2 separate regions of the Homo sapiens genome follow, and region 1 is linked to region 2. The links come from fine-mapping of genetic effects on gene expression. A gene starts in region 2. The other region holds a variant in brackets. All regions are shown on one strand. Distances are from middle to middle.

Region 1 (4,334 bases), 300 kb before region 2:
GACTCCCCGCCACTCTGCTGGGGGAGGTAAGGGTGTCTCAAAAGATGCTGCTGCCTGCTCAGAGACCTCGCTTTAGATGTGACAGTGGAGAGACTCGCACCTGCCAGGGCTGCCAGCTGTACCCCGGAGCACGGAGCAGGCAGGCTGGCACCACCAGCGGGAGCTCCTCAGAGAGGCGGCCCCGCGACGAGGCCTCGAAAGCAGGGCTGTGTGGACAACGTCACAGCCGGAAAGTTGGGTGTTCTAATGACGAGAGTGACTAACGGCACCAGTGATGTAGCTGTCTGTTCTTTGGGACCTGATCATTGAATCACATGCGTCAAACGTGTAGGTGGAGTGAGTGCTTCAACTTTAGGCCACAGAATTCTCACACCGGCCACGTCAAATAGGATCGTCGTTCCATTCACAGACAGAAAAACTGAGGTTTGGATTTGAGAAGGGACTTGGACGCACGTCTGACATGCCTGAGTCACAAAGCTAAGAAAGGAAAGGCTGAGACACAAGCCCAGGTCCTCCAATCCCAAAGCAGGGGCTCCCACTGCACCAGCACATAACGGTGCTGGGAACAAGCTGCTCCATCTTATCCCAGGTCCTTCAATCCCAAAGCAGGGGCTCCCCACTGCACCAGCACACAGTGGTGCTGGGAACACGCTGCTCCATCTTATCCCCCAACAGCATCCAGACTTGAGAGACGACCTGTGTGTAACACGGAAAGAAGCCAGCCGGGCTGCTCTGCAGCCACAGATATTTGGTCTAGGAAATGCTTGCCGGCTCCTCTTCACATGAATTCTGGTTCGCCAAGAAACGGCGAATACAGGAATTCCTGTATTCATATGCCCATCACTCATGTGACAACTCCTAGAATTTTCTACCTCCAAAAGGTAAGAAGCTTCAGCGTAAGAAATTATTCAAAAGAAAAATGAGTGAAAATTACCACATATGAAACAGATGGGGGGAGCGTCTAAGCAGTCATGCTCCACGTAGCTTTTAAGGGCCAGGCCCACCTTAAACAAATAACAAGGCTACTTCCCCACGAAAAGTGCCCAAGCCCGGCACGTCATCCAGGGCACTCGTGACTGTGAGACAGTCGTTTCCCTACAACACACACAGACTGCCATCCTCAAGGGCAAATCTGGAAACTACTTTCCCCCGCAGAGTAACACAATAGCAGGCCCCACCGACTCAACAAACAGAAACATCCAGCTAACCAGATGTACGGGACAGTAGCCCACACACGAACCAACCTTTGACGTTATTCTAAGATACTGAATGCCAAAAGTGCGGGAAGAAAGATAATGATCTCCACGTGAGCCCTGGAAGGCTGTTTTCGGCAGCTGTAACCTCAATCCACGTGTCCAAGACCCTCACACCAGTGGCTGCTGACACAACTGGCTTTGTGGTGCAGTTGTGAACCACGTTAGTGGACAACCTCGGTCTTCTAACAGTGACGATTTTCTGCTTCACAGTGTGGCAGGAAGCAGCTTGCACAAGTGAAACGTAGGCAAATCTAGGCATTTGTATTCCTACACCCAGCACACTCCTGTGTGGACAGACAGTGAGGGGAGGGGACTCCTGTGTGGACAGGCAGTGCGGGCGGCGGGGGGGCGACTCCTGTGTGGACAGACAGTGAGGGGAGGGGACTCCTGTGTGGACAGGCAGGGCGGGGTGGGGGGCGACTCCTGTGTGGACAGGCAGGGTGGGAGGGAGACTCCTGTGTGGACAGACAGTGTGGGGAGGGGACTCCTGTGTGGACAGACAGTATGGGGAGGGGGACTCCTGTGTGGACAGGCAGGGCAGGGTGGGGGACTCCTTTGTGGACAGACACGGCCGGGGGGACCTCACTTACTGTCAGGATGCCATGCCAGAGCCCGACGTCCTTCTTGAAATCCAGCACATTCACAATGGTTTCAGCTGCACAACAGAGGGAGTCAGGAGATTTTTACTTAGGACAGGGCGGCAACAGATCAAAATGCAAACAAAATCCAATATTGCATCAGGGGAAATAACAGATCTTGGGAAAATATCATTTTGCCGTATCTTGGTGGAAATTCTGTAGACTCCAAGTAGGCCGGTTTGAGTGCCGGCCACCCTGGAGTTTCTCGACAGATATCCTGACACATGAGTGAGCAGCGTTAGCTCTCCACACTGC[A/G]CCTTAAAACGCAGCGTTCCTTCTCCTTTTATATATTTCCCCCTCTCTGCCTTTTTCTTTAAAAGATTTCTTTTCACTTCCTCATGAGTCTCCCAGGAAAGGAAGCTTTGCAGCTGGCATGCCCTCTGCGCACAGAGGAGGAAGTGGATTTTTGGCAACACAGGGGCCTACACAGCTCTACTGCAAGTCTCCAAGGTTGGAGCTGCAATAAAAAAAGGAGGCACTGCAATTTGGAAGACGGGGAGGACAATCTATTCAATGACTATGGGGGAGGGCTCTAAAAAGGTGCTAAAAGCTCGTGCTTGATGAGGTTTACCATCACAGAGCATGCTGGCCCTGAACAGACCTAGCTTTCTCCCGAAGTCACCTGGCCAGCCAAGGTCAGCAGCTGCCTGCAGGTGACTCAGTCTCACCTCCCCTTCCAAAGGCTAAAGTGTGGAGGATAATAGACAGGAGGCTTTCACAATAAATGGCCAAAAGTAAACAACCTAAGTTCCTTTTGAAAGTAGTGAAGTAAAGAGCGAACGTATCATTCCCTCCCCAACCTCCACAAGCGTGACCACCCTGGACCTTGGAGGCGCAGGGGGCAGTGCGTCCCCAGGTGTGAAAACTCCATGGCCAAACATCAGAATACCCACGAGACACACACGCTGTTTTTAAAAGGGAGATTATGAGGATGGGCAGATAATAAAAATAGTAGAAAAAGAAAAGTGTTTCATTCCACAGCGGAGCGGCAGATGCCACCACGGCTTCGTGAAGTTCCAGAAAGAGACGCCAGGCAGGGGTGCACGCCGCAGCGGTGCCCTGTCAGGAGCCTGGTCAAGGGGATGTCAGGGAGCCTCAGGGGGTCTCCGGAGGGGGTCTCAAGGGGCCTTGGGGCATCCTAAGGGATCTCAGGGACATGGGGGGGTTCTCTGGAGTCTCAAGGGGCCTCGGGGCATCCCAAGGGATCTCAGGGCCACGGGGATTCTCTGGGGGTTCTCTGGGGTCTCAAGGGGCCTCGGGCCATCCCAAGGGATCTCAGGGGCATGGGGGTTCTCTGGGGGTTCTCTGAGGTCTCAAGGGGCCTTGGGGCATCCCAAGGGATCTCAGGGGCATGGGGGTTCTCTGGGGTCTCAAAGGGCCTCAGGGCATCCCAAGGGATCTCAGGGGCATGGGGGTTCTCAAGGGGTCTCAAAGGGCCTCAGGGTACATCACAACGTCTCAGAACATCTCAGGAGGTTTCAGGGGATATCAGCAGGACTCAGGCCACCAATGGGGGGAGTCTCTGGGGTCCCCGGGGTCGCACCCTCCCCTCTCTGTGCCATTTCAGTGTGGTTGCCACAGTTCCCTCCACTCAAGTTCCCTCCACTCACTTCCCCTCTTTGCCTCCCATACCAGCCCACCCGGGGGAAGGAAAACACATCACGAGCACCAATGCAGAGACTCTGACTCAATTGGGAGGGTGGGTGGACACACAGGCGTTTTCTTTACAACTAAAGATATGCTCATGTGCACCCAGGGATGAAGCTCCACGGCGTTAACAGCGTCTCCCCAGATCCACATGCTGAAGCCCAGGCCCCGGCGTGGCTGTGTGGAGAGCGCACCTTTCAGGAGGTCCTTTGCATTCAGTGGGGTGGTAGGGATGGGTTCCTAACTGCACATCTTCTCACACCTCCTACGAGAAACCTGGAAGAGACCCCCACTGGGAACTGCCCAAGGACACGCTGACCTCAGACCTCCGCGCTGTGCGGACATAAATGTCTGCTGTTGAAGCCGCCCAGTCTGTAGTATTTGCTATGGTAGGCTGAGCTGATATCCTAACTCAACAATAAGTTCATGTCAGCGGAGCTGGGCACAAACTTCACGCTATTTCTATGGCTCCTCGTGGGAGTGATGTGGCCTTCGTGTCAGGTGTCCCGGTTAGAACCAGGGTCCCAAGGAGTCAGGGTCTGGCACCCCACCTTCCGTGTAGCCACACGCCTGCGTCAGGGCCTGGCAGTGTGTCAGCAGCGCAGTCCTCGTCACCGTCACACCCAGCACACTGCCATCCTTACACGTCTTGTACTGAAACGAGACAAAGCGTGAGGGAAGTGGGGCTGACAGGTCACGGCAGTTTTTCTGGTTACTTGAGGTTCTCCAAGTCCCTGAATTTTGGCACTCGTGTAACCGTCAGAAACACACGTTAGTGCCAAGGCCACACTCA
Region 2 (4,376 bases):
GCAAACCCACACTTCACAGCAAAGTTAAAGACCATCCAGCAAACAGATGAGGCAGTGGGGCCAGCACAGGCCGGAGGGTGCAGAGAGGCTGAATAGAGCCACGGAGCAACCCTCTCACCCTTTCTTCTTAAATGTGTAGCTCAGATCTCAGCAAGATTCATGTGGAAGGAAAAATATAATTAGGCTTCCTGCATGCAAACACACACACCCCTTTCTCTGCCTGGTCTCTCAATAAGAAACTAACTCATTAAGCCCTTTTTAAAAAACCTGTACAGACGCAAGGTGTTCACAGGGAATTCGGCTGAGCACACCTTCGTCGAAAGTGGCTTTGCCATCATCTGGGCAGCAAGACAGTATCACTCACCCTCCAAGAGCAACTGACAGGCAAGTGTCGTCACCTCAAAAGGCCACAATGCCCAACACAGGACACCCATTCCCATAGACATCCCAGACTCTGGGAACAAATGTGGGTCCAACTTCTGGGCTAGCAGTGGGTGGGGGAACCCTCAGATGGGGCTCGCCCTGCTGAGCTCAGGGGCGCTACGCTCTGCTGACCTGGATGGGGCACTGACACTTCACATCAGTGTGATGCAGGCAGCACAGAAGCCCCTGTCCTGAGACAGCGAACACGGAGGGTGCTGCAGGCAGGGGTGCACCTGGGCCGAGACGCAAGCCGGGAAACCTACCCAAGGCTGACACAATCAGATAACCAGGGTGGGCCTTTTGCAAATGATACACTCCTTACCCACCAAACGAGCTGTCTGCACTGCACAATCTACTTACCAGTTTACATCCGAACCCTGCACACGGCAGCTCCCGCCTCCTAGCCATGCCCTCCTCATCCTCAGCTCCTCAGGAGGGCAGCAGCCAAGCCCACAGGCCTGGAAGACTCTGCCCCCCGCCAACTGTGTCACGTTACAGGACACTGACACACCTCGCGGAACCCCACATCTGAAACTGAAAAACAGTACCATTTCCCGTCCCCAGAAGTCTGGAAAGGCAGTTGGCTGCACACCATGGCCCCTGCTCACTCCCTTCTTTGCCCTGAAAGTGTTAAAAAGGAAAACATAAAGTCAACACCAGCTCCTCCCTGCCGGTGAAAATTGGCACGAATGAGTTTACTTTCTGGCTGCCGGCCCTCACAAAACCGTTACCCAAAAAAAGTTCACCATGCTAAACTGCTCCAAATATAAATGTGAGACGCGCCGGCCCACCCCCACCCCACCCCACGTTACAGGAATGGCCTGACCAGGATGAGCCCAGAGACGGCTAAATGCACATCAAACATTTCAGATTTGGGAACTTCAGTGGTTTTGGGGAAAAGACCTGGCAAAGCCCGATCTGAAACTTATGACAGTTGAGCACATGATCTCCGCCATGAAGAGCAAATAAGAGGCGTACACAACCCTCCATAAGACCGCGGTGGCTGATCTGCCACAAACCCTCCTACGAGAGGACCAGGACGGCAAGGCCGGAGCCCGGCCCGGGGGGAGGTTGACGATTCCGCCCAGCCCTCCCCGCGCAGCGCCCGCGAACAATGGGGGTGGGATCCCCCGGGCCGCGCCAGGACCGCTGCACGGCCTGAGCCACCAGAGATCGAACCCGGGGTCCAACGACAAGTTTCGCATTGAAATCTGGCCGGGCGTTCCAGGCCGAACCCGCCAGCGAGGAGGTGGCGCGCACCGCGCTGCTGCACCAAGGACGCCGCGGCTCCAGCGCAGAGCGCACGGGAAGGCCGATCCCGCCGGGCCCGCTGCATCCTGCGTCCCCGCGCGGCGCCCAGGCCCCACAGACACCCCCAGGGCGCGGGGGGATCGCGGCCCCACAAACATCCCAGGGCGCGGGGGATCGCGGCCCCACAAACACCCCCAGAGCGCGAGGGGATCCCAGGCCCCACAGACACCCCCAGGGCGCGGGGAATCGCGGCCCCACAAACGTCCCCAGAGCGCGGGGGATCGCGGCCTCACAAACGTCCCTAGGGCGCGGGGTCTGGGGGTCCGGGGGACGCGCACGCTCCGGGCTGGGGTCGCACCTCCCCCTCCGGGCCCGGCCCCCGCCCCGCCGCAGGCCCCGCGCCCCCAGCCCTCCGCGCGCGGCCCTCCCCGGTGACAGCGCGGCCCGGCCCGGGGCGGGGGCCCGGTTACCTTCCGACAGCTCCAGCTCCAGCTCGGCCAGGCGCGCCCGCACCTCCAGGGGCAGCGCCATGCCCTCCAGGCTGCGGTCCGCCATGCTCCGCGGGCGCCGCGCCCCGCACGGCCTCCTCTTTGTTCGCAGGCGGAGGTCTCGGCGGCTCCTCGCGCCCGGCGGAACCGCACCGAGGAGGAGGCGGCGGCGCGGGCGCGGGAGGCGGGCGGCGGGCGCGCAGGGACCTCCCTCCCCTCGGCGCCTCCTCAGCGCGGCCCCGCCACGGCCGCCTCGCGCGCCCCCGCGCCCCACGGTCCCCGGCCCGCCCCGCGCGCGCTCGGCCCCTCCCCGCAGGCGCTGCGGACCCGGACCCGGCCCTGCTGCTCTCGGCCCCGGCCCGGCGGGAGCGTCTCTGCGCGCGCGCGTCACGGGGCCGCGGGGGCAGGGCGCGCGCGCGCGGGGCGCGAGGACGCGCAGGAGCGGGAGCGCGCGGGGGGGCGCGCGGCCGCGTCGGCGAAGCGCGCGCTCCCGGGGGCGCGCTCGGGGGCGGGTTGGGGGCTCGGGGCCCGCGGGGCGGGGCGGGGCGGGGCGGTCTTGTCTGTCCTGGGCTCTGCGCGTCCAGCGGAGCCTGCGGGCCCGGCCCCAGAGCCTGGTCCACCCGGCTCCCTGCGAAAATCACGTCCTGGAGCCGCAGCTTGACGTCTGCGCGAAAACTCGCAGTGCCCCGGGTCTTGGAGGGCTGGTTTTTTGTTAATGAACATTTTAAGAGGCGGAGACGGAGCGCTAGGCTGGAAGTTTCGAATGCAACGACCAGCAGATGACCTTGAGCGACTCTGAGCCTTTGCCTGGAGGGTCAGTGTCCCCATCTGTGAAAAGGGGATGGGAAGACAAGGTTGGGTCACCTAATCTCCAAATGCCAGGTGGGCCCGAAAAGCCTGGCTCCAGCCCTCCCGGAACAGGCTGCAGGCCCCAGGGTTCCCACCGTCCTTCTCCTTGTGGGGCCATCAGCTCCCAGCCTCAGTGCCACCTCGGCGAGGCTGAAGCCCCGTCTGTGCCTCTAGTCCTGACCATCTGGGGAGGCCCTCGCATCTCCAACCGTCCACTGAGCAAACTTCCCTGGAAGCCCCTAGACACCCCAAACGCCACAAACCCTAAATGAAGCCAGCTGCTTCCAGTGACTCTTAGTCACTGGAAGTTCTGCTTCTCAGAACCGCCCCCGTTGTCTTCATCATCACCTTCCTCTGTCTCCACACATCCTCCCCAGTCTGTTGCACAAAGCCCCGACGACCTGGCCTCCTTTTCATCCTTGTACCCCCTCTTCCCAGCCCGGCCCCTCCCTTAGGCCCAGAGCTTCCTAAAGACCTCCTCGCCTCCCCGTCCTCCACGGGACATTGGCCAGCGCTGGCTCCCGGAGGCCCAGCTGCACTCACTCCCCTTTCAGAGTGGGCCGCAGGAACACAGGTCCCCCACCTCACCCCCCTACCCCTACCCCCCACCACCCCCCCACCCCGCTTCGACCGGAGCCCCCACCAGCCGGGACCCACCTGCACGGCAGCCTTGCGGCCTCCACACTCCGGCTCCTGCAAACAACGCGGCTGACCCGCAGCACCTCTGCTCCCGGCCTCCACCCCGGAGAGCCTGCCCCTTCTCTGCCCCTGCCACCCACAGCCATCCCTGACCCCAGGTCCAGAACAATCTCTCTCCTTTCTCTTCCTGCACCGGCCACTTCCCGCCCTCATCACGTTTGACCTTTTTTATCTTCTCTGTATTCTTTGTGAGTGTAAGCGCCTGGAGGACAGAGCCCATGCCTCACCCACCTTTGCCCTTCCCATGGATCTAGCAGTGGTGGCAACCGCCAGAGGTGTGTGCATTTCCTGTAAGGATCGGTCCTTTCAGTGGGGAATTGTGAGAATGACATTCGACGATGAGCTGGGAAACAGGAACCCCAAACCCGTGTGCTTCCTGCGCCGAGCCGTGTGCCTCCGCCTGGTGTGCGCCGTGGGTTCGTCCTTCGCTCCAGACTGCGTTCAATGCAACAGATACGGGTGGCACAAGCATGTGGCCCCACCATCATCTCTCCCCTTTGCATGATAAAGAGACCGACCAGCAATGCAGGGGCCGTGGGGAAGATCCCACACAGCCCCTACACGTCACAGATAAAAGTCCTTAGAGACAGAAAGGGGAGCAGAACCAGGATTCAAACCCCAGTCTCCAAAGCAAAGCCCTGAGTTCATTTCATTACAGCAAAGATG

Alleles and levels. Alleles are on the strand shown, and positions count from the first base shown. SD is a standard deviation of normalised expression in the study named.
For the expression in macrophages of the gene that starts at base 2,319 in region 2, G is the high allele of the variant in region 1 and A is the other (moderate effect, 0.69 SD a copy in Nedelec 2016).

What was found. PIP is the estimated chance that this variant, and not a neighbour inherited with it, causes the effect.
Region 1: its variant is the best candidate, but not a certain one, in a credible set for the expression of DIP2C in macrophages (Nedelec 2016, PIP 0.67).

The regions. Positions count from the first base shown.
Region 1 is chr10:385,899-390,232 of GRCh38, forward strand. DIP2C (disco interacting protein 2 homolog C) reads right to left here. Exons shown (of 37, transcript NM_014974.3): 13 at 4,093-4,195; 14 at 1,847-1,911. Among named protein-coding and RNA genes, the nearest start is that of DIP2C-AS2, 240 kb to the right of the region's middle. The variant A/G (reference allele first, on the strand shown) is at 2,150.
Region 2 is chr10:687,350-691,725 of GRCh38, forward strand. DIP2C (disco interacting protein 2 homolog C) reads right to left here and starts at 2,319. Exons shown (of 37, transcript NM_014974.3): 1 at 2,145-2,319. The coding sequence starts at 2,229. RefSeq lists an enhancer at 2,694-3,629.